4 linked regions of the Homo sapiens genome follow. The protein of the gene in region 3 purifies or fractionates together with the protein of the main gene of each other region. This does not show direct contact. Each region holds a gene or a part of one and is shown on either strand. Other genes may lie near its edges.

Region 1 (7,145 bases), on a different chromosome or scaffold from region 3:
TATTTGAGCTGTGATACCTTCCTTCTGATTGTAAAGATATTTTCTTATAGCTTCTTCAAGGATTGTCTATTTGAATTTCCAAAGATGACATTCAATTACTCTGCTACATCTTTTCCCCTCTCTTGGCCACATGACTTAACCACTCTGAGCCTCACTTTCATCATCTTTTAAATTAGAGGATCCAGCTAGATAACCTCTAACATCCCTGGTGGCTCAGATATCCAAACACACTCTTCGCCCTGTTTACACCTTGGAGGGAGCCACAATTACTCATATGAAGGTGCTTCCCAGCCTGTACCTGAAATACCAGCACCAGATCTTAGTGTGATCGTGAGACCACTTCCAGATGAGACCCCTTCCTCGCCAGAAAACACCCAGACACCCTGGGAGGAACAGCAAAAGCTGCTACACTGGAATTGACCTATCGTGGCTGGTCACATGTCTACTCTACTCTCGATTTCTCTACTCTGGCAATGGATTTGAATTTGAACTTCAGAGGTAAGGAACACAGAATAGGAAAGAACTGAAATGGCTCAACAGCAAAGCCACGTTTCCATGGCTTAAGAACCAATGAGAGAATCCGTTCCATGCTCTCTAACTTCCCATTTTTGGCTTGTGATACTGCTATTCAGTTTCAAATATTTTTCTTTTGAAACATCTTTATGTTCTGGCCTCAAATGATACAAACCCACACCTGGCCAGGCACAGTGGCTCACATGTAATCCCAACACTTTGGGAGGCCAACATGGGTGGATTACTTGAGTCCAGGAGTTCAAGACCAGCCTGGGCAACATGGTGAAACCTCACATCTACAAAATATACGCTCACACAAAAATCAGCTGGGTGTGGTGGTGTGCACCTGTAGTTTCAGCTACTCAGGAGGCTGAGATGGGAGGATTGCTTGAGCCCAGGAGGTTGAGGCTGCAGTAAGCCATGATTGCATCACTGCACTCCAGCCTGGGTGATAGAGTGAGACCCTGTCTCCATTAAAAAACTAAAACAGGCTGGGCGCGGTGGCTCAAGCCTGTAATCCCAGCACTTTGGGAGGCTGAGGCGGGTGGACCACGAGGTCAGGAGATCGAAACCATCCTGGCTAACATGGTGAAACCCCGTCTCTACTAAAAATACAAAAAATTATTCAGGCGTGGTGGCAGGCACCTGTAGTCCCAGCTGCTCGGGAAGCTGAGGCAGGAGAATGGCGTGAACCCGGGAGGCGGAGCTTGCAGTGAGCCAAGATTGTGCCACTGCACTCCAGCCTGGGCAAGAGAGAGACTCCATCTAAAAAAAAAAAAAAAAACAGAACCAAAAAAAACACACCTCTGCATTACAGAGGACAAAAAAATGTAGCAGAGTAATCAAATATCATCTTTGGAAATTCAAACAGACAATCCTTGAAGAAGATGTAACAAAATGTCTTCACAATCAGAGGAAGCCATCACAGCTCAACTATGTGTAGAAAACAGACCTGCTCCATGTTATGTGCAACCTGACCCACCAAACAAGCAGGTCAGGGTCAAATATAGCTATTTTTCTGGTGAATTCATCCAGCTTTGACTTTGGACTTTTACAAACATGCTCTTTCACAATGACAGGGCTGGAGCTGAATGCTATAAATGTGAGGCAGCTATTGTTATACTGTCAGCTAAACCACAATGACTTACACTCAGTGATGAATCTCAAGTTTGTTGATATTTCCCAGAGTTCCCAATGAGTACTAAATGTTATCTCTTTGTTCAAACATTATGAAATATTGTGATTTTTTTTCTTGTAGATTTCCTACTGATTTTCACATACGTGAAAGTGAATATTCTTGTGGCATTTATGGTAGTGATTTCCATCCTAGAAATCAGTGGATATATTCAATTCACCACGTCACAGCTGCCCAGGCATGATGGGAGGGGTTGGCAGTGGGGTGGGGAGTGCAAGGGGAAAGGGTCTCAGGTTCAAGACTCAGTAGCCTGAATACACAGCCTACGCGGTCGTGCTTCTGAACATTGAGAGAGAGAGCAAATGTTGTTTTGTTTTGTTTTGTTTTCAAGAATTTGGGATCAGGCTGAGCACAGTGGCTCACGCCTATAATCCCAACACTTTGGGAGGCTGAGGCAGGTGGATTACTCGAGGTCAGGAGTTTGAGACCAGCCTGACCAATATGGTGAAACCCCATCTTTACTTTAAAAAAAATAATACAAAGTTAGTTGTGGTGGTGCACGCCCGTAATTCCAGCTACTTGGGAGGTTCAGGCAGGGGAATCGCGTGAACCTGGGAGGTGGAGGTTGCAGTAAGCCAAGATCATGCCATTGCGCTTGAGTCTGAGCCACAGAGTGACGCTCCCTCTCAAAAAAAAAAAAAAAAAAGGACTTTGGGATCTGAAGACAGAGTATCAGCATGGAAAAAAGTCCAGCCTGCTTTTGGTTTGGTTTATTCTGAGATAATTCTGAATATCAGATTAAAATAATCAGAAAGGAAATGATCAATGGAAGGAGGTATGATTTTGAAAGTCACTGCTGTTTTTGGGAGAACATGCCATTGGGTTTTTTATTATTTATTTATTTTTTTCTTTTGAGACCAAGTCTTGCCCTGTTGCCCAGGTGGAATGCAGTGGCGTGATCTCAGCTCACTCTAACCTCCGCCTCCCCAGTTCAAGCAATTCTCATGCCTCAGCCTCCCAAGTAGCTGGGATTACAGGCGCATGCCACCACACCTGGCTAATTTTTGTATTTTTAGTAGAGACGGGGTTGCACTATGTTGGCCAGGCTGGTCTCAAACTCCTGACCTCAGGTCATCCACCCGCCTCAGTCTCCCAAAGTGCTGGGATTACAAGTGTGAGCCACCGCGCCCAGCTGCCATTGGGTCTTAATTCTCCAGAAACAGTATCTCAGTCAAGAATGCAAAGCTGTGGCAGGATTTTTCCATGAGGGGTCCACTGAGGCACTCACTGGCCAAGGTGGGCGCTCAACTAGTCCAACCTAGGCAAGGGAGGGGAGAATCTGTTTTCTCCCTTCCATTATTTCAGAAGTTATGTTTCTCCAGCAGACACACGGCTGTGCAATTTCGAAGACTGAGGGGAAACTAGGGAGGAAAATGCAGAAAACTCTCTGTTGCATGCCCTGTGAATTGGGCTTTAAATGTAGCAAGGAGCTCCAGGATCCCAGAAGTTGGCCTGGGGTGCTTGGTCCTGAGGATAAGACAACCTCCCTTGTATTGTAATTCTGCCCACAGCTGGAGCTTCCTATTTCAGTGTTGCATCCAAGAAGTTACATTTCCTGTTTGTTGCAAGAAAAATAGAATCTGACCAGGATGGAGGCTAGGCATGGGGGCTCACATCTGGAATCCCAGCAGTTTCGGAGGCTGAGGCAAGCAGATAGCTTGAGCCCAGGTGTTCAAGACCAGGATGAGCAACATGATGAAATCCCATCTCTACAAAAAATAGCCAGGCAGTGTAGTGCACACCTGTAGTCCAGCTACTCTGGAGGCTGAGGTGGGCAGATTGCTTGAGCCGGGGGAAGTTGAGGCTGCAATGAGCTTTGATCTCACCACTGCACTCCAATTCTGAGACTGGGGAGTATTGATTTGCCACTGACCTGAGCCCGGCTGATAGGGGCAGCAGGACAGACACTGTTACCTTAATCAAAGACATTCACGAAGCATTCTCACTGAAGATCTGCCCTAGTATCCTGCACAGCCACTTGCCTGGGTCTTTATAGGTAACAGGTAGACAGTCATCAAAGAGATAGGGGAAAACATGCACAATGAATTCTTTGCTCAGAAAAACCCTTCTGTGTCTTCTCCCACTTTTTCTAAATTTTTCCTGCTTTCATTTAGATCAAAGGATTTTGTTTCTTGGAATAGTTCTGCACTTGGTCCTTTAGAAAGGATGACAATTATCTGTAGGTCTCTCTGATTTTAAGATCAATAGAAATCAGCAAAAGCCAAAAAATAAAAAATAAAAATAAAATAAAAGCACACAAGCACATTCAAGCACATCCATCTGCCCCTGACTTGTCCTCACAGTAAGCAACTGCTTCTGACTTTGCTGTTTGAATAACCTCTGGGTGTTCGATCCACCCACACAGCTCAAGTTTGAGCTCCAGAACAAATATTTGTCCCAATTTTGAACAAAGTTAGAGAGTTTTTTCTTCTTTTTTCTTCTTTCTTAAAGCGAACTGTACTCCTCTGCTGTTCCTTTGAACTTGGTTCAGTAGGAAGAAGTGATATCCTCCCCAGACCATCTGCTTTGGGGAGCTTGGCAAAACTGTCCAGCAAAATGAAAAGACTCACGTGCTTTTTCATCTGCTTCTTTCTTTCTGAAGTATCAGGCTTCGAAATCCCCATAAATGGACTTTCTGAAGTAAGTACTTACAGATCACTCCTTGCTGTTGGCTTGTTCATGAGCTCAGTAAATCATCTATTGGAATCGCTATTCAATGGCCTTATTCTGTGTGTAATGGAAACTTAAGATAAAATTCATCTGAGTGCAAGTGTTTACTGTTATAATTACTGGAATGTATATTTACCTTTTAAAGCATTAACAGGTTTTGCATGAAAATTAAGTCAAGATCAATGGGCAGGCATCAGAGCGTAGCATTTATGGAGCAGAGCTGCTCACTCCTCACCTAAAAAATTGGGGGTAAGAATAGACCTAACCCAATGGTTTGCTTTGAGAATTAAATGACACAGTGTAAACTCTTCTAGCAGAGCGCCTGGACTAGTAAGTGCTTAATAATTACTAGCTGTTATGATGATGAAGAAATATTATCACTCTTTTACTAAGAGTATAAGAAAAGTCATTATCAAAGCACACTGTTTTTCATATCTAAGTGAACAGTGATATTTGTAATAAGAGCACTTTAAGTATTCCTATTAAAGCGGAAGATAGCAGGCAGGGTGGAAAAGTACAAGAATAATTCCCATGGAGTACAGGTCTCCACTTTTGTCCCTTAGCCATCTCCAATGTAAGGAAAGTCTTGGACTGAAAGTCTGTTTCTGAAAGTCATACAAGAGCTATTTTTATGCCAGAAAAGCGAAGCATGTTATGGGAACATCCCAGCAAATGCAAAGGCTTATAATACTTGCAGAGTGGATTACCTATAAAAATGCCAGAGAATATGACGGCATATTTACAAAGGGAAAATATCACTCTGTCTGCTTTGAAACTATCATATTTTCCAACACTTAAAAGCCACCAGAGTGTGTTAGAAATCTCAAATTGAAGCCAAGACATCCAAATGTGTTTGTGCTTTTTCAGTCATTTCTAACTGGCATTTCCTTTTAGAAAATACCTACATTTTTAACTTGGGGAGATGTATGGTTCATGTCTGTCCAGTCAGACACTGCAAATGCCTCCAGGGTCTACCCAGATACTTCCCCAGACACCCACCTAATCACTGGGTTGTTTTGATCTCTGTCTTACCACCTGCTGGCAAACTCAAAAATGAATTCCCATGTCCAACAAATGCGAAGGTGTTGTTACCCTCCATTTGGACACCTCTGAGACGTAACCAGCAAATAGAAATATACTAAAGAAATCATTTTATACAAAATTGTGATTGCCCAGAGGTAGAGGAAAGAATATAAAATAATGAATACCAACAGCTATCTCTTTGGCTCTAGATCTTTTGGAAATCATCATTCTCAGCAAAGTAACACAAGAAGGGAAAACCCAACACCGCATGTTCTCACTCATAAGTGGGAGTCGAACAACGAGAACACATGGACACAGGAAGGGGAACATCACACACTGGGGCCTGTCAGGGGGTGGGGGGCTAGGGGAGGGATAGCATTAGGAGAAATACCTGACGTAAATGATGAGTTAATGGGTGTAGCAAACCAACATGGCACATGTATACCTATGTAACAAATCTGCACGTTGTGCACATGTACCCCAGAACTTACAGTATAATTAAAAAAAAAAAAGTTAAAATCCTAATTTTTTTTAAGTTTGTAGACTATGAAGATCTTGTGGAACTGGCCCCAGGCAAATTTCAATTGGTGGCAGAGAACCGGAGATATCAGGTATAGTAAGGTTTACTCCCAAAAGGGGGAAAAAAAGTGAAAGAGATTATGGCAGAAGAAGACAAGTGTTAAGATGCCTTCTGCTAGATTTTCTTAAGAGTTTGTTTTTTAGCACAGAAGAGTCCAGACTTCTTACACCTTGGTGGAAGAGATCACCCAGGTGAAATAAAAAGAGAAACTCACACAACTGCTCAGCAGCCTTCACACCATAATGCTCAATTTAGTCCCTTAAAGAGTACACGACTCAGCACAGTGGCTCCCACTTATAATCACAGCATTTTCAGAGGCCAAGGAGGGAGGATCACTTGAGGCCAGGAGTTCCAGATCAGCCTGGGTAACATAGTGAGGCTCTACCTCTGCCACCCAGCTAATATATATATTAGCTGGCATGCACCTGTAATCCCAGCTATTTGAGAAGCTGAGATGGAGGATCACTTGAACCCAAGAGTTCGAGGCTGCAGTGAGCTATGATTGCACCAGCCTGGGCAACAGAGGGAGACGCTGTCCCCACTCCATTTAAAAAAAAAAAAAAAAAAAAGAATACATGGCTATGTGTTTTCTTCAAAACTTAAGATTCCGAAATTATTTCCTGCCTTGCCGGAAGGATTTCCTGTTAGGAAGACTTTTCTTATTTTAGCGATGACAGACACTCCCCCTTGCAGCCTCACAATCTCCTTCCTCTGGTCACTCTGAGGGCACCTGAGAAGGAGAATTGGCCACATTGGAAGTTGCAATCCTGGCGGCCACCAGCAGCAGTATAGACAAAACCCTCTAATTAAGGGGGTGAGTTTTCCAGAACACCAGGAAGGGCTTGGCTTCTTCCCCACGGAGCCCACATGCTGAGAGAGGAGGTATTTACGGAAGCAGCAACCCTAAGCTGATCAATGTCTTATTTTGTATGGGTGTGAATTTTTTACTTTCTGAAAATCCAGGATTTTTTTTTGTAGACTAATAATATTAAAATCCAATAAGCAAGACTTCATGTCACAATTTATTTAGCCACAAGAGAGAAAAATTTGTCATTGAGCATTGCATTCAAGAAGTCTACAAGAAGAGGTCAACCATTGACCTCACCATGTCACACAGCACAGAACCTCAGTTCACCCCGAATCAGGCAAGCTGAGCTTATATCC
Region 2 (8,052 bases), on a different chromosome or scaffold from region 3:
CACACACACATACACACATACAAAAAAGGCACTGCAGGGCAGAAATTCCTCAGGTGCTCGCTAATGGAATTCCCAGGGTCTTGGAGCCGCTTCGGGGATCAAGAGATCTCATAGCCCCCGCTGGGGTAAGGAGCAGCGAGTCTGTTCCATTTAATCAAATACAGAATGAATTTTCAGCTCTATTCACTAGCTTGTCTCCAGGGCTCTCAAAAGGCACCAGGCAGCTAGAATCACACACATGTGGCTCTTTTAGGCAAGTATAATTAGCTTGATTTTAAAAAGCCACATTAATAATATCACCTCAGGACCATTATTCAGGAGACAGATGACAATGATACTGTATGTTTTAAGCCTGACAATGGGGGAAAGAGCACAAGCAATGAGGGAAAACTTGAAGGATTAAAAAAAAAAAAACCAAGAAACCAGTTTTTCATTTAATTGTAATCCAATATTTTTCAAGTGACATTAAGAATATTCCATACACCATCCCTTCTTTTTAACAAAAAAGAATCAAGTAAAGCCCTCCCCTGTGCTGTTGAAAGTGAGTTAGTGCCAAATACACAACAAAAACTTATCACATGGAATGATTACATACAATATAAAAATTTAAGTAAAAATAAAACATTCTCAAATTCAAGTTCACGAAATTTCTTGAAAAAATTCCCCATTAAAAAATACTGTAAAAAAGCAAGTCCTTCAACTCAAAATATTTGGCAACCATACTCCAAATTCTGTTTCTAATCTAATTAGTTTGTATTAAGTTCATTTACTTAAAGGGGGGCTACCATGTACGCAGCTCATCTACAGCTCCACTGTATTGTCTTACCCATACTTCTACATCATGCCATAGCTGATCACAAGGCGCTGGCTCATATCATTACACGTTAAAGCAACACATTTTTCAACTCATTATTTATTTTCTAACGCTTCCCTGATTTTTACTACGATAATATTTAATTCCTGAAATCATTTCCCTAGTATTTAACTTCGAAACAATCACCAATTTTTAGTCTAAACGTTCGTGGAAAAAAAAAAATTCTACAGAAGGAAAATTTTACTTCAACTTACATTTCGACAAAACCATACATGAAATTGTCTACAAAGTCATGAAGGCAGATGGGCGAAGTGGGAAAATAAGAAGCAAGCCCAAGAAATAGTCAACAAATTTTTACCTGCTCTCTTTAGAACAAAGCCCTAGGACATTAGTTCCTATTCCTACCTACTGCCTTCAGCTGTATATACCCTGACGATCTGGAGGAGAAAGTCCTATCTTAAAGTGAACTTAATTCTTTTCCTGCAAAGTCAAACCACCTGCAAAGAAAGCAAGGCGTAAGCTAGATTTAGAAGCCAAGCTACACAAGCTAGATCAGTATCCAAGTCCTAAGGGTTCTTTGTACTTGAAGGCTTGAGAGTCAGAGCTGTTTAAGTACTTTGCACAGAAGAGGAGGCTGATGAGAACCATGGCAATCAATCAAAGCATCCCAAGTGAGTTATTACACAAACAACAGCACAGTACCTCTAGTAACTGATTCTCCTGGCTGACTAAACTATTCAAACAAAGACAGATTTCCCAAACACTGGGAAGTTTTTGCATGAAAGTTAAACAGTATACATTTGTGTGTTTCTTAATAGAAATATAAATGTTTCTGTTCTACACACTGCCAAACACACACCCAGGGCACGTCTTTACAAAATGAAACAGGTTTTCTCCATCCTTCTCATATAACTTCAAGTATGAGGCAGTTCATTCCAACATGTGCATAACAGAGACTGCAGTATTTGGTGCTTCTCGGGTTCCAAAGAATGCTTTCTAGTTAAGCACTAATTTAAAATTTCCAGAAAATTTTTTGAAGGTTTTCTTTCATCTTATCTTAAAAGTTGAACTATCCCCAAATTTTCAGCTAAAAATAGACTGAGGGTGGGGGAGAACTACAAAATGTCATAGAATGTTTAGAATTATGCTGACAATAAACTCATTTCATTTTCTAACACCCTCCCCACCTTCCTCTCCTTGGAGACACTGTCCACTAGGTATGCCAAGTGTCAGTTGGGAATTTGAGGGTTATGTTATCAGCGCCGAAAGGAATCAGAATTCACTGACTTGGCGTCTTTCATCTTTACTGGCATAGGCCTGAAAATAAATCTCATGTGAGCTTTTAGTCCAACCTCCTGTTTTTCAAGGTGTCTGGTTTGGGACACAAAGGCTGACTTTCTGTTGATGAGGTTCTCTAAATTCTGGATTCCCACTGGAAAGCAGTCTGCCCTTAAAGCACCTGCCACCCTCTGTCGTCCTGATGAGGAAGGGCAGGCATTCTGGAAACAGCTCCTTTTGGAGAGCCTTCCACCTGATTTGGTGGGGTTAGGGAGAACAATGAAGGGAAGGGCAAGAGAGTCTATCTATCCCCCTCAGTGATTTATTGCTGAAATTCCTAGATGTGGAGAGAAAGCAACAAAGGTCTGGAAGCTGCCGACTGAAATAAATAGCGAGCTGTAATGTATTTAGCAAATGATAATGCAATCCACAGAAAGCTTTACAGAGGAGAAGGAAAAATACACTCCCTGGGGCTGGGAAGTCAGTGAGTCTTGTGAAGGCAGAGAAAGATACATTGTGCAGGAAATTTCTCTTGCTTCTCCCTACACATAAATCACTGTCTCTCGCGGGCGCTCTGCAGGGATGGAGATTGAGAGAGGCCAGGGACCCGGCTCCCTTGGGAAAACGCGCGGGCGCCCTAGCTCCCCGCTCTGCGGCATCTCACCTGCCCCCGAGGACCATCGTCAAGAAGAGGTTTCGTCGTGTCACTGACACCTCACCCCGCCTCCTCCCGCGAGGTGCCTCCGAGCCCCCGAGGACGCGGAACGCCGGGGCTCCCCGCCGGGCAAGCATCAGCATCCAGACCCCGCACGCAGCCCTGCACCCCCACGCCCTCCAGGGAACGCCGGCCCGCCCGTCCCCGGGACCTCCCGTCCCCTAAGCCAAGGCCCCCCAAGCCCAGTGCCCGCGCGCCACCCCTCCCTCCGACCCTGCGGCGGGACCCCCACCCCCGCACCTCTCCGCGGGGCTGGCTAAGCCTCCAGACCTCCTGCGCTGCAGCCGGCTCGGAAAGCCACCCCCAGGTCATCCCCCCGCGCGCGCGCGGCGGCGGCTACGGTGGCGGCGGCTGCGATCCGAACGGGCCCCTCCATGCACCGCGCAGGGCAGAGGAGGGAGCGGCGCCTCGCACGCCGGGGCTGGGGCGCTGGGCAGGGCGGGCGGGCGTGGGGTCCCGGGTCTCCTCGCACCTAGCCGCGCGAGCCGGGCTCCCGGGCTCAGGGGAGGGGAGCTGAGGGGCGGAGTCACCGGGGCGCGCCCCCGCGGCTGCGCTCCTCCCCGCCGGGGAGCGCGGGCACGTAACTCGGAGGGTGCTGGGCCGGCCCGGAGCACGCGAGCAGCGGGAGGAGGGACCGGGGAATGACTGACGGAGGCGGGCCGTAGAGGCCGCTGTGCCCCGCCGGCCCGCACCCGGCCGGAGTGTGCGCGCGCAGCCTGCCAGATCAGCGGCGGGGGCACGGGCCGTACCAAGTGACGGAGGGGGGCACGCTCTGGGCAGGACCCTCTCCTCGTCATTGACCTGCCTACTCTGCAAGAGAGATACCCCAGGGGAGCATAGAAGAGGCTTTTCTTGGGTGTAGGACAGGTAAGGGTGAGTTGCCTTACCAAGTCACGGAGATTCCCATCATGCCTGCACTCACGCTCCCCTCACCTTTCATTCCCTTGGAGAGACGGCTCTTCTGGCAGGTCTCCAAATGGTCGACTCTGTCCCCCGAGGCCCCGCCCTAGCCTCGTTCGGGCCCCGCCCTAGCCTCGTTCGGGCCCCGCCCTAGCCTCGTTCAGGCCCCGCCCCTCGCCCCGCCCCGCCCCTCGCCTCTACCTAAGTTCTCTGAGCCGCCAACGGGTGCATCCCTTCTCCCGGTTCTTGCCTGGTCTCTCTTAGGGTTCCAGCGGCCCACCGCTTATACCTCCTTCGCCTTTCCACCACTTTCCATGTTTAATTCCTTAGGCAGCTTCATCTGATTCCCCCACCACCACCCACCCGCCCTGCCTGCACATAAACGCAAGCAGGTAGCAAAACTCAGGGGCTAGGAGAGGCGTGGTGTGAGCCTTTGGCCCCAGAGTCTTTCCAACTCGTCCGTTGGACCTGCCCCAAGTTATCTGAACTCAATGAACTTCAGTTGTTCAAACAGAAAAAGGAAAAATAAATTTCTATTCAAAATGTTGCTGTGAAGCGTAAATACGATACTTTGTGAAAAGCACCTGCCACTCAGTGGGCATTCAAGGACTGTAACTTCTTTATAAATTGTTATTATTAGCAGTTAGCTCTTTTTTTTCCCCATCATCATTACTTACTATTAGCTTAACTACAAAAGGATCCCTAATAATAGTTAAGTTTATAAATACTCAGTACTGAACTTCAGGAGAAATATGCCAGTCCTCCCTTACCTTCTTACGTGAATTTTAAAAAGAAATGCTTTGAAAGTGTGGTATTGTTCAAGCAGGTTAGCTTTCTGCATTAGCTAGATTCAGGGTTTTTGTAAAGCCCCTGGAAAGAAAGTCAGTACAGGACGGAAAAAAAAAACACAATTTTTTTTCTTAAGACGGAGTCTCACTCTGTCGCCCAGGCTGGGGTGCTCTTGTTGCCCAGGCTGGAGTGCAATGGTGCGATCTTGGCTCACTGCAACCTCCGCCTCCCGAGTGCAAGCGATTCTCCTGCCTCAGCCTCCCAAGTAGCTGGGATTACAGCACGTGCCACCACACCCGGCTAATTTTTGTATTTTCAGTAGAAACGGGGTTTTGCCATGTTGGCCAGGTTGGTCTTGAACTCCTGACCTCAGATGATTCTCCCGCCTTGGCCTCCCAAAGTGCTGGGATTACAGGCGTGAGCCACCACACCCAGCCAGAAAAAAACTCTTAACTCTAGTTTGTCCTCCACTGTTCTATTGTTCACTTTTGGAGACCAAGAATCTATATGTTATTAACAAGCTATGGTAAACGATTTTTCATTCGGCAAGTAAGTCTTTCTATAGAGGATTTAACTGAAATGAGAGTTTTGTGTGGATGTTAATAGAAGTCTTGCAAATTTATTGTGGCTACAGAGAATTCCAGGTTCTTCTCCTGGGACATAATGCACTTTGTGCACCTCCAGATCTCACAGTGCCATTTGAATTCACTATGCCTACTGTTACTCATAGTCAGACTAAGAAAAAAATCACAATGTTTGTTGATATTAATTACTTCCTCTCCCCCTTTTTTTGTAAAGCAGAGAAATCATTTCAGGTGTAAAACAGTTTTTCATTAATGAATCATTCATCCATTTGTTCAACATTAAGAAACAATGTGCAGTCCCAAGCTTCAAAGAGCTCACAGTCTAACTGTGATACAGACACACACGTGGGTAAGTACAAGGAGACATCTTCAGTGCAATGAACAGGGAGCTGTGTGAACACAAGGTCAGTATAGTATTGAGTATAGTATTAAGAGGTGATAGTATTAAGAGGTGATAGTATTAAGAGGTGATAGTATTAAGAGGTGATAGTATTAAGAGGTGATAGTATTAAGAGGTGATAGTATTAAGAGGTGATAGTATTAAGAGGTGATAGTATTAAGAGGTGATAGTATTAAGAGGTGATAGTATTAAGAGGTGATAGTATTAAGAGGTGATAGTATTAAGAGGTGATAGTATTAAGAGGTGGAGACTTTAGAAGCTGACTAAGTCATGAGGACCACCCTCATGAGCAAGATTCATGACCTTATAAAAGGGCTTCAAGGAGCTAGCTAGCCCCTTCTGTCCCTTCTGCCGTGGGAGGACACAGAGAGGTCATCATCTGTAAGGAGTAGGCACTTACCAGACCCTGAATCTGCAGGCACCTTGATCTTGGATTTCCCAACCTCCATAACTATGAGAAATAAATTTCTGTTGCTTAAAGAGTACCCAATCTAAGGCATTTTGTTATAGCAGCAGAAACAGACTAAGACACTATGGGGCCTCCAACCACAGATGTCCACTATGTAGAGAACTCCAAGTGGAAATACGGATTTAAACGTCATCAGCATAAAGTAGTGTTTATACCATTAAAGTGGAAGCGATCTCTCAGGAATAATATGGAACCAGAAAGTTGTAGCCAAGGATGGATCTCTAAAACTCCAATAACTAAAGCCCCCAATTATCTTGATGAATTTGGAGCAAAGGCTGTTTACTGAACTCAAGGTATGGGACTTGAAAAGGATGCTTGAAGAAGGTGGTGAAGGTTTGGAATAGTCATTAGGAAAAATGAGAGTTGAAAAATGAAAGTAGAAAATCACTCAGAGAATTGATAAGTGATGCTGAGGGCCTGGCTGAGGTTGGAGACCATTAATGTATGGTGATGGAGCTTGCATGATTATGTGGTTTTCTCCATCAAAATTTAATCAGTCAGGTAGAAGGGGAAAAGCATAACACCAACCCAATTTTGAAGTTTTTCTGGAAGTTGTACAAGAAGGAAAATAACACACGGTATTGGTAAGAAAATTTTTAAAACAGCAATCATAGAATCCAGGCAGTGGAAAAGGTGTAAGAGGTTTGAGAAGAATAATAGACTGGAAAAATTACAAATTAAAGAAAAGGAGATATGTATGACATTAAAGAGCTGTTGTTACAGGATTGAGTAAGAAAGAACCAAGAAGTCTTTGGTAATAACCAGAGTTTACCATTTCAGAAGTAGAACAGTTCCAAGTAATGATTAGATCTAGTATGTTTACCGGTGCTGGTGGACGATGTGGATGATTTATGCCGTCAGGGGACATATTGAAGGAACTGAGAGGCTGATAAATGAAATACCATGAGCCAAGTACTCAAGTCCTCAGGGATGAGGTGGGAAGGTTGTTAGATACTAAGTGACATTTAATACATTCCAGGCCTGAAGTGGGTGCTTTTATAATACTCAATACATGTTAAAATTGGTTCTCCAAGGCCGGGCGCGGTGGCTCACACCTGTAATCCCAGCACTTTGAGAGGCCGAGGCGGGCAGATCATGAGGTCAGGAGATCAAGACCATCCTGGCTGACATGGTGAAACCCCGTCTGTACTAAAAATACAAACAATCAGCCAGGCGTGATGGTGGGTGCCTACAGTCCCAGCTACTCGGGAGGCTGAGGCAGGAGAATGGCATGAACCCAGGAGGCGGAGCTTGCAGTGAGCCGAGATCCCATCACTGCACTCCAGCCTGGGCGACAGAGCAAGACGCCATCTCAAAAACAAAAACAAAAATGGTTCTCCAAGAATAACATAATAGAGTAACTAGAGTCCATAAACTTGTATCACATTCTGACTGTACCTTATTTGATCTTGGTCAAATAACTTAAACTCTTGGAGTCTTGATTTCATCATTTGTAAAGTTGTAAATGACTTCATCATTTGTAAAGAGTAATAATACCTCATATAGAGTTGTTAATAGGACCTACTTCAGTGGTTTGCTAGGAGGATTAATTGAGATGATACACACAAAGCACTTAATACAGTGATTGGCAAGTAGCAAACACTGGATAAAAGTGTTTTTAACATAAATAAAAGCTATTTATAATAATAATAGTTAATGCTTATATAGTTCCTTCTGTGCACCAAGTATTATTTTAAGCATTAGTCCCAAATTACAAATGAGAAAACTGAGACATGAAGTGCCTTGACCATAGTCACACGGCTAGTCAGTGTCAGAGCTCATATTAAAACTCAGGTAATCTGTGTCTAGAGGCTGGACTCTTAATTATTACACATTAATGTCTCCCTACAATAATGGGAAGTATTTTTATTAATATCACTTCAAATAAATTGATCAGTTAAACTGATCTGTTCTTTTTTAGCACCATTTGCTCGCAGTGCCGCCTCCTGCTCCTCCTGCCGCCACTGCCGCCCTGAGTCACTGCCTGCGCAGCTCAGGCCTCCTGGCTTCCCATACTAGCTGCCGATATTTGGAGTTCTTATAACATGGCAGACACTGACAATCTGAACTTGATCGAGATTTGGATGATGTTGAAGAAGTACA
Region 3 (8,452 bases):
TGTGAACTGCAGGGTGTTCAGCACCATCCACCCACTCAATGCCAGCAGGACTCCCTCCCCCAGCTCTGACAACCAACAATGTTTCCAGACTTTGCCAAATGTCCCCTAGAGGGCAAAATTTCCCCTGGCAGAGTCACTGATCCACACTAATCTCTAATAACAATTCACCAGTAAAATCCTTCACTTGGGAGAAGAATCGCATGTGTGGGAAGAGTAGAAACTTATATCTTCAATATCTGTCAAAATGGCTTTCATTTATTCCATAATTTGATGTACCAGGAGAAGGCATGTTTAGAGATGATGCCATTTGGCTGCCTGTACCTCACAGCAGGAATGACATGGGCTTTCCAAGGATCTATACAACAAAAACCAGAATGACACACACTGAGTTACACTACAAAGTGGGACATGGGGGATCCTGTAGACATTGAAAGAAGAAAATGCATGACCCCAAGGCACCAGATAGTCCACTCTGATGCTCTCACCATCCTAGAAAACATCTCAGCCATGAATGCAGTCACATATGTCATTAGGAAGGAATGTCTTATTAAGGGGAAAATTGTAGCAAAGGAATTTCTGTTTATGTTCAAATTTGTAGACTTTTGTATTATTCTTTAAATAAGAATCTACTCTCCCCCAAAATGAATGCAATCAGTGTCTGGACAGTGTTGGGGTCTTACTCCTGGCCCCTGGGAGCTGGGAGCTGACAGTGCCCTGCTGCCCCAGCCCTGGGCCTTCTCTGAACCTCAAGAACACTGGATGGCCCCCATTTAGGGAGTAGAGAGGAGAGGTCTTTTAAACATCCTCACCAGTCACCTCTCCACCTTTCAGACCCTGGGCAGAATCTGTTGCCCACTCTTGGATTTGATCTTTAAGTTACTGACTTTAAAGCATTTTGACACTTTTTTTTTTTTTTGGTAGTCAGAAGCTTTCCACCTCCTTGGGAAAAGTGATTCTCTACTCTATGTACAGGAATAACCAGTAGAAATAGAGAAAAAATGCATTAATATTCAGAAAGAAGATGATCTCTATGTGAACAAATGAAAGCTTAAAATCATCAGAGTCAACATAAAATCAACATTGCCAGTGCTAAAACTACAAAAGTGACATTAACGGTGAACTAGAAGAATAAAACAAGCATTACAGTTGCTGGTAAACCTAAATCACTTATTTTTTTAAAAGACCATTCTGGTATATTGCAATGATGACAGGAGTGCCCTTCAGTCAATATGATGCCTGTAATTTTTGTGACCTGGCAAGATATACTGTCCCTTCTCCTTTTAAATCTCAAATGCAAAATGAGAGGCAACTCCTGGGTCACCCCCTCCCAGAGCAAACTGCCTGCAAGCAGCCCCTGGAAGAGCAGAGGCCCTAGTTTCCCTGATCCTCAAGGCAGGAGCGATGGGAAGCTCCCTGTAAGCCGGGGGAGAGCTTTGTTCCCAGAATGTTCCTCCTCTTCCCAGAGGCACCAACCCCGATGCCCTGACACTTACCTTCTGCTCTCTCGCCCAATGTTCACTCAAATATTGAGTGCTTGGTGAGTCTGCAGAGCTCAGGAACTTCTGGGAGCCAAATCACCACCAGCTCCTCCAGAAAAGATACCTGTGCACACCCAAAACCACCCCACTGAGCCCTGCCTGGGGTCTGTACCACATCCAGCATGTGCACTGTGAGCATAGAATCCGGCCCTGAATTCATGACCACCCACCAACATGCCCCCAACTGAAACCAGCAAATTCCCACACATGGCAAGCACTGAGGCTTGGAGGTGCTTTCTCACGAGGTGGTTCTGCTTCCACCATGGGGTGGTTGTCACTGACACTGGAAGTTGCTCAGCACCTGATAGTGGTGCAGGACTCAGGGACCCTCAACATCAATCTGGTGAAGGCAGATGGGGCCCCTCCAGATCTTCTCCCACCTGCAGGTGCCCAGCTCAGTAAGACCCCAACCCTGGGAGGAGGATCCAGACCCCTGTGCCAGGTAGACCAAGCTTGAGGCCTCAGGCAATGAGAGAGAAGGAGATGGAGGTCTGACCAGGAGCTGCTCTTCCTTGAGAGCCCGGGTCCCTTCCTTGTGCAAAGGCTTGGCTTATGAACAGAATCCTCAATCTGTAGTGACAGTGCCTAAGAGGATGACATGGACTCCGGCCTGATGTGCAGCCGTCCCTGTCTAACCCCTCCCTGCTGCAGGACAGCACCAGCCCAGGAGAGGAATCCTCAGTTGGGGAGCCAGTAAGAACATGGAATACTCGGGGCCTCTTACCTTCCTCCAGTCCACAGCAGCAGCCACCGTTTGTGCCTAGGACACCCACCTGCTGGCCCTTCTGACCCTTACAGTCAGGCCTTCCAGATGCCACTCCTGACTCAAGGCCCAGCTACTTTCACCCTGCTGAGCCCTGCTCCTCCCAACCAGGGTCACTGCCTTGCTAAGCACCTCCTCCAGCTCCAGCTGACTGGTCACCCAACACCCAAACCCCAGAGGACAAACAAGAAAATAAACAGATATGAAGTCTGAAGGAGATGCAGGCTATGAAGACAAATAAAAGAGTAAGCATGAATATAACTCCACCAACAAAATTGTTTCCCAAAACAAAATCTTCTGTGCCCATGATCATGGAACTAATTGTCCCTCACTATGTAGGCAAGCACTTCCAGGGTCTCTCAATTATTTCATGGGTGTCAATATACACTGTAACATAGCAACTCAGAAAAGAAAGTGGGAATAATTTATCTACTTAGATTAAGGTCCTAAAAAGGTCTCCAGACTGCCAAAAAAGGAGAGCTGAACCACTCCTGCTTTGAGAACCATTGAACTACATCTTTTTTAAAAGTCACCCCAGAATGGCCAAAACAATCTGGAAAAAAAAATTGGAGGACTCACTTCCTAATTTGAAAACTTACTAAAACACTACAATCATTAAAACAGTGTGCTTCTGGCACAAGAATGCACATAGAGATCAATGGAATAGAATCAAGAGTCCAGAAATAAACCCTCACCATTACAGCCCATTGGTTTTTGACATGGGTGCCAAGATTCCTCAATGGGGAAAGAATGGTAGCCTCTTCATATTGTGCTGGAACAACTGGATAACCACATGCGAGATAGTGTAGTTAGACCCCTACCTCACAGCCCATACAAAAGTTAACTCAAAATGTTTCAAAAACCTAAATGGAATAGCAAAACTTATCAAACCATTAGAAGAACATATAGGAGTAAAACTTAATGATCTTGGATTGGGCAATGGTTTCTTCAATATGACATCAAGAGCATAAGTAACAAAATTAAAAATAGATAAGTGAACTTCATCAAAGTTAAAAATGTTTGTGCTTCAAAGAACACCATGAAGAAAGTGAGAAGACACAGAATATGAGAAAAATTTTGCAAATCATGTACCCCATAAGGGACTTGTATCTAAAATATATAAAGAACTATTACAACTGAATAATAAAAAGATAACCCATTTTTTTTAAACAGCAAATGATTTGAATAAATAGTTCTCTAAAAAATATTAAAATTGTCAGCAAATACATGAAAAAATGCTCAACTTCATCAGCCACCAGGGAAATGAAAATCAAAACTGCAATGAGCTATCACTTCACACCTACTAGAATGGCTATAAGTTTTAAAAAATATTAAATAGTAAGTGTTTACAAGAATGTAGAGAAAATGGAACCCTCGTATATTGCTGATGGGAATATAAAATAGCACAGCAAACTGGAAAACAGTTTGGCTGTTTCTCAAAAACTTAAACATAGAACTACCACATGACCCCATATTTATACTCCTATATGTACCCCCAAAGAAATGAACACAGAAACCCAAACAGATACTTCCAAGTGTAAGTTCATTGCAGCGGTTTTCACAATAGCAAAAATGTGGAAACCACCCACATGTCCATTAAGAGATGAATGAATTAAAATTGAGGTATAAACATATATTGGGATATTACTCAGCCATAAATAGGAAAGAAGCTGTAATATATGCTACGACGTGGATGAATCTTAAAAGTGTTACCCTAAGAGAAATAATCCAGAAAAAAATAATACACGTATATAATTCCTTATTATATGAGACATGTAAACTAGGCAAATTCACAGAGATTGATAGTATCAGAGGCTACCAGTGGGTGGGGCAGGGGGAAGTGGGGAGTTATTGATTAAAAGTATGAAGTTTCCATTTGGTATAATGAAGATTTTCTGGTAAAAAATTATGGTGATGGTTGTACAACATTGTGAATAGAATTAGTATCATTTAATTCTACACTTAAAATTGCTAATTCAGTACATTTATCTTATGTATTATACCATATCTAAAGAGATCTTTGGGAAACAAACACTCGCCCTGATCAGATAGTCCTCATACTCATGTACACACCCTTCCTGACCTTCTGTAAAAAGGGATACAAAGATTTAGGGACATGAGACAGTTCAGGCAACTGCAGATCCACAAAATATATGTATTTGCAAAGAGAATGAGAGTTAAGCTGGGGGCACAGACCCCAGACACGGAGAGGGTCCCCCTGAAACCTTCACCAAGGACAGCAGAACCCAGAGCCTCCCACCTCCTTCCATCAAAGTCCTCTCTTCCCAGGACACACAGGACACCTCCCTCCACACCTAGGAGCTGGGGATCCTCCCGAGACCTCCAGGCCTGGGTCTCTGTCCCTGGGTCAGAGGCCAGGCTGGTGACACTGAAGATAGCGGGTGGGTCCTTCCCAGCCATCACCCAGTGAGCCCCTTTCTAGCCCCCAGAGCCACCTCTGTCACTTTCCTGCTGGGCATCATTCTGCCTTCCTGGAGCACTGGAGAGCATGAGGAGACCCAGGGCCCAGCTGGTTTTGTGTGTCACAAAGGGAAATAATCTACCGGCTGTGACAGAACCAAGGCCAGAACACAGCAGAGGTCAGTACTGGGGAGAGTGGGTCGTCCTGTTATGAGGACCCCATCAGCGTTGCTTCTCAAAGTTTTGCCTAGGGAACCAAATATAGGCAAAAAGGAAGGAGAAAGGAGGGACAAGGGAGGCAGGACTGAGAGGGGAGGGGACAGAGAGACATTGTAGGCAGAGCCCCGCCCTTGCCCATAAACGGGAAGTGCTCCTGCCTGAGAGGAAGCTCAGCATAGAGGAAGGAAGGACAGCAGAGACAACAGTCACAGTAACCCTGTCTAGAGCGTTCCTGGAGCCCAAGCTCCTCTCCACAGAGGAGGACAGAGCAGGCAGCAGAGACCATGGGGCCCCCCTCAGCTTGTCCCCACAGAGAATGCATCCCCTGGCAGGGGCTCTTGCTCACAGGTGAGGGGAGGACTCCCTGGGAGTGGGTGGGAGGAGGGAGCACAGAGACTGGCTGGGGTCTCCTGGGGAGGATGGGGCTCTGAGAGGAGACAGAGGGCTTTTGTTAGAGACTCAGGGGAGAGAGCGTCTAAGGAGAACCAAAAAATCTAAGTGAACTGGAATTGCCAAGGGGCAAAACAATCTCAGTTGGTCCATGTTTTCAAGTTCATTGTCAGTGGCCACTACACTTTGAAAATGATAGTAAAACTATATCACAGTGACAATTTAAATAAAAACACCACCAGGGCATGAAACTCTGTCTTCATCTGCCAACCTCAGACATTAGCAAATAAACCCCAGGATATGGAAGGCCCTGGGAACGCTCATGAACTCATCCACAGGAGTCTGCAGCCTGTCCCAGGCACTGGGGTGCAACTAACATCACTCAAGTCCATGCCCTCACAGAGCTCACAATCTCATGGGGGGGAAGACAGACACCCAAAGAGATCTAGAATGTGAGGTCAGGTGCTGACAAGAGCCCTGGAGGGAACAGAGCTGGGAAAGGTCAGAAAGGGAAGACCCAGGGTCTCTAGAGGAGGCTTCACGAAAGAAGTCTCCCAGGGATTCCCTTGTGTGAGTAGGAACTGAAGGCAGTGGGGAGGGAACCATGCAGACCCCTGGGAAAGAGGGTTCACACAAGGAAATGCCAAGGTCAGAGGTACTGAAGGAATGAGGGTCATGCTGCTGACTTTGACCCAGTAGGACACACACACACACACACACCCTCTAAGGCTGAGGGGTGAAGAGACCTGCACCCAGGACCCCGTCTTTCCATGCCAATGCATAGGTCAAATATTGACTGATATTCTCTCCCTTTCCTAGCCTCACTTTTAACTTTCTGGAACGCACCCACCACTGCCTGGCTCTTTATTGCATCAGCGCCCTTTGAAGTTGCTGAAGGGGAGAATGTTCATCTCTCTGTGGTTTATCTGCCCGAGAATCTTTACAGCTATGGCTGGTACAAAGGGAAAACGGTGGAGCCCAACCAGCTAATCGCAGCATATGTAATAGACACTCACGTTAGGACTCCAGGGCCTGCATACAGCGGTCGAGAGACAATATCACCCAGTGGAGATCTGCATTTCCAGAACGTCACCCTAGAGGACACGGGATACTACAACCTACAAGTCACATACAGAAATTCTCAGATTGAACAGGCATCTCACCATCTCCGTGTATACGGTGAGTGATTCCTCCGTGCCTCTGGGTGTTGGGGGTCAGTTCTGCTTCACATACGCAGGATTGTCAGGCCTGGGCTGTGCCTGCATCCCCCTCTGCATTACGTCCCATGTTGGGGTTTGGGCATTTAGTGCAGGACACACCCAGGGGAGACAAACTATAACAGATCAGAATTCCTTTCCCTTATCCGGACTCCGTGGAAATTCCCTACAGCAAGAAGGATAGTCTGATGCGGGAGATGCAGCGGGGGAAAATCAGTCTCAGTCCAACCCCCCTTGGCCTCCTCCTCATAGACATGACCTGAGAAAGATCTTATAGGACTCAGTCAGGGCCTGGCCTGAGGATCCTCTGAGAGAAGCTCAGCCCTTGAAGCCCCTGCCCCAGGCCCCTGTCCCAAGATCCTGACTCCAGATGACCCTGGGGAGCCTGTGCCAGGGCTGGGTTGTGGCTTCCTGGGCAGGGCTGATTGTGAGCAAGGATTTACCAGCTGTCCCAGGGCCGTGGTTCCTAGAGCTGGTCACCAGGCAGGGCTCAGCCCCCAGAGCCCCATCTGGGCAAGGGCAGAGCCTCATCTTTCACCTGAGAGTCAGAGTGGAGAGGACAGACAAACAAACTTCCCAGGCCATTAAACTGGATGGGAAACTTAAAAGATGTCCCGGGAAGTGCACTGTCCTCAGGAGGAGGGAAAGCAGAGAAAAGACACTCTGGACCGCTCCTTCTCCACCAGGAATCAGGCCCAGAGAACTCTTTTTTTTTTTTTTTGGAGTAAAATAATAATAGATGATGTTTATTTGGAGCTATTCTGTGCCAAGCTTTAGGTCAGGTAATTGTAAATATTTTAATGTTAATTTACAGAGAGGATGGCAAGCCAGGGACCATTGACATGTACCCCATTTTATTAAAGAGAAATTGCATCAGCATCACACAGGCTGTCAGTGCTCAACGTCACACCACCGTGTGTCTGCAGCCCAGAATCTGGTCGTGGCCACCACCGTGGGGCATCTGTGGACCCCAGGACCAGATGTTGGTTCAGCTCCTTTCTTCTTGGGCATCCTCAGCTCAGAGAGGGAGATTCTGGTCTGAGGAATGACGGGCAAATGGAGAATTAGTCAGTTTTTACTTAGAACGAAATCACCTGTCTCAACTATCAGACTCAATGCCAGGATTGTCCAAGCCTCTCCCATCAGATCCACATTCCTTCCCTCACTGGACGTGAAATCATGAATTTCTTGATTTGTTGATGTCACTCCCATGGGAGGATGAAGGAAAGGACTCAGCTTTCTCTTCCCACTACACCCTGTACCTGCACAAGGCCCAACTGAGACACACACTCAGTAGTTCTCTGATGAAGGAGGGAGGGAATTAATGAAAAAAGAAAGGAATAATCATAACCTCTTTACAGACTGGGTCCTGGATGTAGGATCCTAGGAGGAGCTGGCCACACCTCTTCCTTGTCCCTTAGGGGCTGAGACCCATGTTCCATTTCTCTGACTGCCTGCTCCTAAAGCCACCCCAGGTATTGCATCTCATGTGACTCTGGGGCCGCTCATCTGTGGGAGGGTTTTCAGGGCTCCCTGGTCCTGGTCTGAGGCAGCTGGGTCCTCCTGGTCCCTGGGGTCTCTGAGGTCACTGTAGTCCCTACTGCTCGCTGCTATGGGTGTCTCTGGTTCTCTCTGCTCCTCCCTGTCCTTCATCTTTCTCCTTTATTCACAGGAGAATGTTCTAAATTTGACTCTGAGATCTCTGAGGATGCAGCATGGCCCCAAGACACTTTCTGTTGGTCACTCTATCCACAGAGTCAGTGGCTCAGCCCTCCATCCAAGCCAGCAGCACCACAGTCACAGAGAAGGGCTCCGTGGTCCTGACCTGCCACACAAATAACACTGGAACCTCTTTCCAGTGGATTTTCAACAACCAGCGTCTGCAGGTCACGAAGAGGATGAAG
Region 4 (7,632 bases), on a different chromosome or scaffold from region 3:
CCTTAGTATTACTACTACTATTATGATCTGTTTTTCACCACAGAACACTTCTGACACCAAATATGTGCATTTTCCACATCAGATAATTCTCCAAATCTCTGTGGACACCAACTAGGTAGTGACACAAACTACCCAGAATTAGCCCAGACCTCTCAGTTCCATAATACTACACCCCACTTCACATGCCATCGCAAGTACAAAGTGGCCAGGGTACCCACACTCTGTCAAATCAGGGGCTCCCACAATGAACTACTCAAGTTCAATAATCTGCTAATAATCTTCTAACCCAGGTAGAAGGCTGCAAAACCCTAATAGAGCCCAAGACTCAGGAGGGCTCTTTTAAGAAGGCAGGCCCATACCCAGGTGGCAGCCTCACTGACCATGGTCCCAGCTACAGACCTAGAAACCTATACACTATCATTTGAGCCAATGTAAAAATAAAATGGACTTTTGTATCATATAAAAATTACCAGAGGCAAACCTAAAAGTTTGTTTTGATTTTAATTCTTATACTTAAGGATCTTGAAAATGGTCAGTAAAAGGGTATATTCTACATAATAAAAGTCCTTTCTATTTGTACGTCCGTCAGTTTAAGGGTTATTTCTCTAATGTTTGATTGTGTTTTGCTCATTATTTGTATTACTGCATTCTAATCTGGCTTCCTGGAGTTAAATTACTACCCTATGAAGTTATGTCCCAGATTCATTGTCATTTCTGTTTAAGACAGGAAAATAAACTGACTTGGGTACCTTTACTTACCATTTTTGTTTTCAATGAACTACCATTATTTAACATACTAAATGGCACTGTAAGGAATCATAATTCAACAACAACAACAACAAAATGGAAAACTGATTTATATCAGTTTCTCAGGGGCCCATTTCTTATATTCACTTTTCATTTGTACATATGGTCACAAAACATATGCGAGTTATATAAACAAATTATATTATTATTTACAAAATAATTCCTTAAAGAATTATTTCAATTCAGCTGGACATGGTAGCCCAGGCCTATAATCCCAGCTACACAGGAGGCTGACGAGGGAGGATCACTGGAGACCAGGAGTTCAAGACTGGCCTGGGTAACATAGAAAGACCTCCACATCTAAAAAATAAATAAATAAATATATACATACATATATATATATATATATATATATATATATATATATATATATATGAATTAATTTTTAAAAACACTGGAAAATTAAATTCTCAAGTTATTTGATTACTCAAATCTTTTTTTTGAGACAGAGTCTTGCTCTGTTGCCCAGGCTGGAGTACAGTGGCATGATCTCTGCTCACCACAACCTCTGCCTCCCAGGTTCAAGTGATCCTTGGGCCTCAGCCTCCCAAGTAGCTGGGATCACAGGCATGTGCCACCATGCATGGCTGATTTTTGTATTTTTGGTAGAGACGGGGTTTCACCATGTTGGCCAGGCTGGTCTCAAACTCCTAGCTTCAAGAGATCTCTTATCTCAGCCTCCCAAAGTGCTGGGATTACAGGCATGAGCCACCACGCCCAGCCCAATTACTCAAATCTTAAAATTAAACATTCCATCAGAAGTCAGTGGCCAAAATTCTCCTTTACATACAGCATAGTCTACCCAAGTCAAATCCTCTTCAGATGTGAATTGGCCTAAAAAACTGTGATAAGCAAAGAACACAAGCACAAAATTCCATTTAAGAGATGCTTCGTGCCTAGAATCAGCTTTAGGGTAGAGAAATATTAATGACAGAATTAGTCAGCATTTGGTTTAGTGGTCTAAGTATGGCCTGACTGCAAGTTGGGCTAAATATATCAAAAAGTCTGTCCAATGTGTGGCCTAATAATTCACTGCCCCTTGAAATCCATGCTATCATATTTCTGTAGATTCATTAATGCTAAAATGATTCCAATAGACAGATTTTTATTTATAATTTCACCTAAAACAACCAAGCAATTTTTCAAAATCATTATAATATTGCTGCTGATGTTAATAAATATGAAATCTCTTACTTGTATGGGGTAATTCTTTTCCTCTTCACAGTAGTAGGTTGTGCTAATACAACAATTTTTCTTTTATTGTTCACTAATGAGACAGTAATTGCCATCAGAATCCTACTGGAAACATAGACTTTTAAATATAACAGGCCTAAAGACAGGTTTCACTGTATTTATAATGATTTTCAGATACATTTTGTTCTGCATGAATACAACAGCACCAAAATGTTTTCTTTTCTGTGGAAGATAAACTTCATATTATTTAGCAACGTGTGCATAGGAGAAACAAATTTAACCAGGCAGATCTCAGGTACCTCTTTCCAGCAACTAATGAAAGAACAATGAACAGAATGCTCCTTTTTACTTAAAGAAAAAAAAAATCCTGTTAACCTTTCATTAGAAATCCTTAAAAAAATGCTATTTTAAAGTTTTTAATGTTTGAATTAGAAATGTAACCATCGGACTCACTATGAGTTCCAATGTACCGCAATGCAAAACTGCACACTCCACTTCAAATACTGATTATATATAAAGAACATTTATAGAAAGATATTTTAATGTATTGTTGGCTGGCACCACTACCTTCAGAATTTATTTAGAATGTAAAGATTTCTAGAAATACATTTTAATTAATACTTTCTGGTGGTATATTTTGGTTGATGAACTGCACTTGGCAATTACCATCCTTTGGGACCTCAGGTACTCTTCGCCTCTTAAATATTGTAGGTGCTATTAATATTTACCACTCAACAGATGGATTAACAAGTCTGTTTCTCATTCTTAGATTATAATCTTTTCTAAAGCCCAAATAAAATGTGAAAGGAGAATAGTACCTTTCATGATGTCCTAAATCCAAAAGAAATTCATCTGCATGTCTTTGGAGTTCATTTCCTTCTAAGTTCTTTAATTTCTTCAATTCACTCTGTAGGAAAAACCAGAGCTCTTTAGCTCCATTTTCAATCCTCCTCCTCAGGATTTCATGATCCTTCCCCAGACCTGTAGTCAAAGAATAGAGAGTTGTAGCATTTCCAACATTTTGATAAAAGGAAACTTTCAATTATCTGTGCTAAAGCCCATATACTGAGGAGGGGAAAACACTGTATAATCACCTACCATTTCTGGTCTGTTTCTTGTAATTTTCAATCTGTTCTTTGGCCTTAACAAGCTGCTCTTCTAAAACGCGTACTCTTCCTATAGCTGGCCCCTGATCAATAGGGCCTTCTGGTATCCTGTAGTTTAGGGAAGATAATGTAAACATTTAGCTTTCAAACTGTGCAACAAAATACAAGCTCACTTTCTAAAACATTTATACTGTAAACTCCATAAGTTGTTGAACCATATAGCACAAAAGTAGTACCAAATGGAATTTTCTCTTCAAAGGTATAGGATTAACCAGTGAAATGGACAATGAAATGATAATAACGAAAAATAGAAAATATTAATCTACTTCAGAAATCTATGATCTTCTAGGAGTTAACAAACCTCTAGAGCTGTTTCCTAAAAATCTTTCATCCCCAGAGTACCATGATCAGTGGCAAAGAGGTCAATTATTCATTAGCATTGAGAGTAACAAAAGTGAAGGAAAAAGTAAAGAAAAGGCTTAAAGGGAATAACGAAGCATATCTGAACATGTGTCTAAGGACATGCTCAAACATCAAATATAATGTATTTCTAAATTAATTATAATATCAGACTATGTAAATCTGTCTTTCAATTCATGACATTAGACTACTAAGCATTGGTCTTATATAGAAAAAAGAAAGACAAGAGTAGAAGATAAAACATATTAGAAAAAAATTGGGCCAGGTGTAGCCACTCATGCCTATAATCCCAGCACTTTGGGAGGCCCAGGTAGGAGGATTACTTGAGCCCAGGAGTTCATGGCCAGCCTGGGCAACACAGCAATCCCCCATCATTACAAAAATGAAAACATTAGCTGGGCACATGGTGGTGTGTGCCTGCAGTCCCAGCTACTCAGGAAGCTAAGGAAGGAGGATGGCTTGAACCATCCTTGAACCATAGTTCAAGATTACAATGAACTATGATCATGTCACTGCATTCTAGTGTAGGCAGCAGAGTGAAACCCTGTCTCGAAAAAATAAAAATAAAAAATTGAAGATCATTGTTCTATTCATTTCTATCAGCAACAAAAACAATCAGTCAATAATATAAAAGCTGGAACACAGAACAGCAATCCAAGATCTCTTACTTATATTATCAACCTCTCTGTTCAACTTAATTCCAAACTGTGCTTGTTCCTGTTTTGTTTTTATGTGACTTATGGCAGTATACTGTACTCCACTTTGATGTACATAATACAATTTCGTGGTAGGCTAAACAAAGGTCTCCCAAAGATATCCATAACCTAATCATGAAATCTGTGAATATTACTCTTTATGGCAAAAGAAACTCTGAATATATAATTAAGGATTTTGAGATTGGATTATCTAGGTGAGCCATTTTGTAATAACAAGTGTCTTCATAAGAGGAAGGTAGAAGAAGATTTTACTACAGAAGAGGAAAAGGTTATGTGGCTGTTAGCTTTGAAGATGGAAGAAGCAACCATGAGCAAGGAAGACATTTTTAGAAACTGGAAAAGGCAAACGAACGAACAAACAAAAATACCCCAGATGCTCTCCTAGAGCTTCTCTAGGGAATCCAGCCCTCCTGACATCTTGGTTTCAGTGCAGTGAAACTCAATTCAGATCTCTGGCCTCCAAAACTCTTAAGAGAATAAATTTATGTTGTTTTAAGCCATAAAGTTTGTGGTATTTGTCAAAGCAGCAATAGGAAATTAATACGTACATATATTGATCCTTTTACAAAATTGTCCTAAAGATTAAATAGCTGATTTTTCTTTCAAAGTCTATTTAAATGAGGAAATGTCTGTAAAAGTACTTAGCAGTGTCTGGCAATAAATTTTATGAAGGCTACTATTATATCTGAGCTTTGTCATTTTAGAGATGAGCTGTAATCTCAAAAAGTCTGGGCTATCTATTCTTACCATCATGACCAGTTTAAGGGAACTTAAGTTTTAAATTATAGTTGGCAGAACTTAAATTCAGATGTCAACACAGTCTTTTTTTTTTTTTTTTGACACAGTCTCGATTTGTCACCCAGGCTGGAGTACAGTGATGGGATCTTGGCTTGCCACAACCACTGCCTCCCAGATTCAAATGATTCTCGTGCCTCGGCCTCCTGAGCAGATGGGATTACGGGAATGCACCACCATCCCTGGCTAATTTTTTTACATTTTTAGTAGAGACGGGGTTTCATTGGGTTGGCCAGGCTGGTCTAAAACTCCTGGCCTCAAGTGATCCGCCCACCTCAACCTCCCAAAGTGCTGAATTACAGGTATGAGCCACGGCGCCCAGCCAACATAGCCTTTTGAGGCAAACACTCTGATACGAAAGGTTTTTTATAGCTTCTCTAACATTTTCTATATAACCTGATAAAGCCAAATTAACTGTCAATTACCTACACTACTTCAGAACACGTTTAATAAAGTAGCTATTGTTACAGCTATACCAAAGTAATTGGAGACATTTTATAATTTCCTGTAAAATTGTACGCATTAACATTGAACAGGAGCATAAAAAGTAACTATCCTCCAATCATGAGTGTCCAAGGCTACAGAATATGAATGAAAAAGCCTTCATTTGTATAAGCACAAAGCGAATAATAAAAAATGAATACAGTAGTTAGGTGCACAATTACCCAATTTATGAGCACGCATACATTCACAAATGAGGCATGTCCTGGTATATAGTTTTTTAAAGTTATGTTTCTAAGACTTGGCTCTTAATCTCTTTGTGAATTAGGTGGCTGGTTTCTAGGAAACAATTTGAAAATAGAATAAAACTTCAATCTCTTGGGATTTATTTTGGCAGCAATATACTATAGGACAGGAATGTCCTTTTTCAGAACATATGTTAGTGATAGAAAAATTGACAATAGAAAGATTATGTCTAGGTTCTCCTTTTTATCTCTTTCTTCAAATATTGGTGGAATAAACATCAGAGGCAAAACAGCCATGAAAAAAATAGCATGTGATCTTTTCAGTAGCTTTCCACAAAGAGTTCCAATCTAATTCTAATAAAACATAATGGAATTAGTAATCCATATTGCCTAATAATCTAATCCAACTGTGAAAAAAAAAACTGGAAAAGAAAATTACTGGAAAAATCACTCTAAAAAAAAAATACAGGAGAACTATTCTTTCCAAACTCCATCCAGAAAAGAGTCAATATGCACGAACAGTCTCTTTTCTGAATACTTAGGGAACAGAATGCTTTCTTACATTCACCATGCCAAAGATACAGATATATAAGACTTCCACTTCTAGCCAAGACATTTACCATCCTGCCTGAAACAACTCAAAATCCAGGTTAGATGTATTAAACAATGATCTAATAAAATTGCAATCAGGCAACAAAGGGCAGTGATCACCAGAGAAGGAAAACAAATGATGATAGCCCTGTGACTGTCCCAGCTTACTGCATTCAGAGAGTTTCCAGACCACAGTGTATGGAGGGGAAATGCAGATGGAGCCAGTACATTCACTGAGTTGAAGAAATGGAGCTAAGAGTCTAAAAAGACCAAGACAGAGTTTGAATAAGAGAGAACTGTAGAGGACAGAGAATTCCAGAAATCTGCAAAGGTACCATTTTGGAATTAGCAGAGTACTCATCAGCACACACACATAAGGAACTACTCAGGCTGGGGAAAGAACTCTCTAAAAGGATTAGAGGAAGTAGTACCTGGCATTCATACAGATTAGGTAGAAACAGTTCCTGATCCTATCAGCCAGACTAGAAAACCGTAATTCATGGGATGCTGGGTAAAATGCTCAGAAGGATTTGGCCTCAATAGCAGGAAAATGTGCCCCAGACCAAACATTGCTTAGGTCCCACTTAACAATTATTAAAAGACAAAATAGGATCAAATTATTTTAAAATAACATAACTACATCCCAGAACAAAATTTAAGAATATTTGTAAATTATACAAGACCTTCTAGTAACAAACAAGGTAAAATTCATGTCTGGAATCCACAAAAGTTACCAGGCTTGCAAAAAAACAAGAAAAGACAACCCATAAAGAAGAGTGAAATCAATCTATCAAAACCAACTCAAAACTGACACAGATGTTAGAATCACCATAGAAATAACAGTTATTATGACTGTATTTCATATGTTCAAAAGTTAGAGACAGGGAAGATATAAAAAAGATGTTAAAATTTTAATAGGCCAGGTGCGGTGGCTCACGCCTGTAATCCCAGCACTTTGGGAGGCTGAGGCAGGCAGATCACCTGAGGTCAGGAGTTCAAGACCAGCCTGGCCAACATGGTGAAATACTGTCTCTATGAAAAATACAAAAATTAGCCAGGCATGGTGGCAGACGTCTGTAATCCCAGCTACTCAGGAGGCTGAGGCAGGAGAACTGCTTGAACCCAAGAGGCAGAGGTTGCAGTGAGTCGAGATCACGCCTTTGAACTCCAGCCGGGGTGGCAGAGTGAGACTCCATCTCAGAAAAAAGAAAGAAAGAAAGAAAAAATTTTAATAGATACCCAAGTTGAACTACTACAGATGAAAACTATAATGTCTGAAATGAAAAATATAAAGAATGAGATTTACTGCAGATTATA

Evidence for each region.
Region 1: the proteins of CEACAM21 (region 3) and ITIH2 purify together in Homo sapiens (affinity purification with mass spectrometry; 3 studies listed by BioGRID and IntAct, with this or other methods). This does not show direct contact.
Region 2: the proteins of CEACAM21 (region 3) and CDON purify together in Homo sapiens (affinity purification with mass spectrometry; 3 studies listed by BioGRID and IntAct, with this or other methods). This does not show direct contact.
Region 4: the proteins of CEACAM21 (region 3) and FUT8 purify together in Homo sapiens (affinity purification with mass spectrometry; 3 studies listed by BioGRID and IntAct, with this or other methods). This does not show direct contact.

Annotation. Positions count from the first base shown.
Region 1 is NC_000010.11:7,699,171-7,706,315, forward strand, and holds the start of ITIH2 (inter-alpha-trypsin inhibitor heavy chain H2 precursor), read left to right. Parts: upstream 1-4,145; 5' UTR 4,146-4,264; coding exon 4,265-4,348; intron 4,349-5,937; coding exon 5,938-6,012; intron 6,013-7,145. UniProt on the Homo sapiens protein: May act as a carrier of hyaluronan in serum or as a binding protein between hyaluronan and other matrix protein, including those on cell surfaces in tissues to regulate the localization, synthesis and degradation of hyaluronan which are essential to cells undergoing biological processes.
Region 2 is NC_000011.10:126,059,532-126,067,583, forward strand, and holds the start of CDON (cell adhesion molecule-related/down-regulated by oncogenes isoform 2 precursor), read right to left. Parts: upstream 3,336-8,052; 5' UTR 3,048-3,335; intron 2,911-3,047; exon of another isoform or gene 2,757-2,910; intron 1-2,756. UniProt on the Homo sapiens protein: Component of a cell-surface receptor complex that mediates cell-cell interactions between muscle precursor cells. Promotes differentiation of myogenic cells.
Region 3 is NC_000019.10:41,571,050-41,579,501, forward strand, and holds the start of CEACAM21 (cell adhesion molecule CEACAM21 isoform 1 precursor), read left to right. Parts: upstream 1-5,116; 5' UTR 5,117-5,225; coding exon 5,226-5,289; intron 5,290-6,150; coding exon 6,151-6,510; intron 6,511-7,909; exon of another isoform or gene 7,910-8,023; intron 8,024-8,220; coding exon of another isoform or gene 8,221-8,303; coding exon 8,304-8,452.
Region 4 is NC_000014.9:65,611,561-65,619,192, reverse strand, and holds part of FUT8 (alpha-(1,6)-fucosyltransferase), read right to left. Parts: intron 3,216-7,632; coding exon 3,100-3,215; intron 2,983-3,099; coding exon 2,820-2,982; intron 2,104-2,819; coding exon of another isoform or gene 2,002-2,103; intron 1-2,001. UniProt on the Homo sapiens protein: Catalyzes the addition of fucose in alpha 1-6 linkage to the first GlcNAc residue, next to the peptide chains in N-glycans.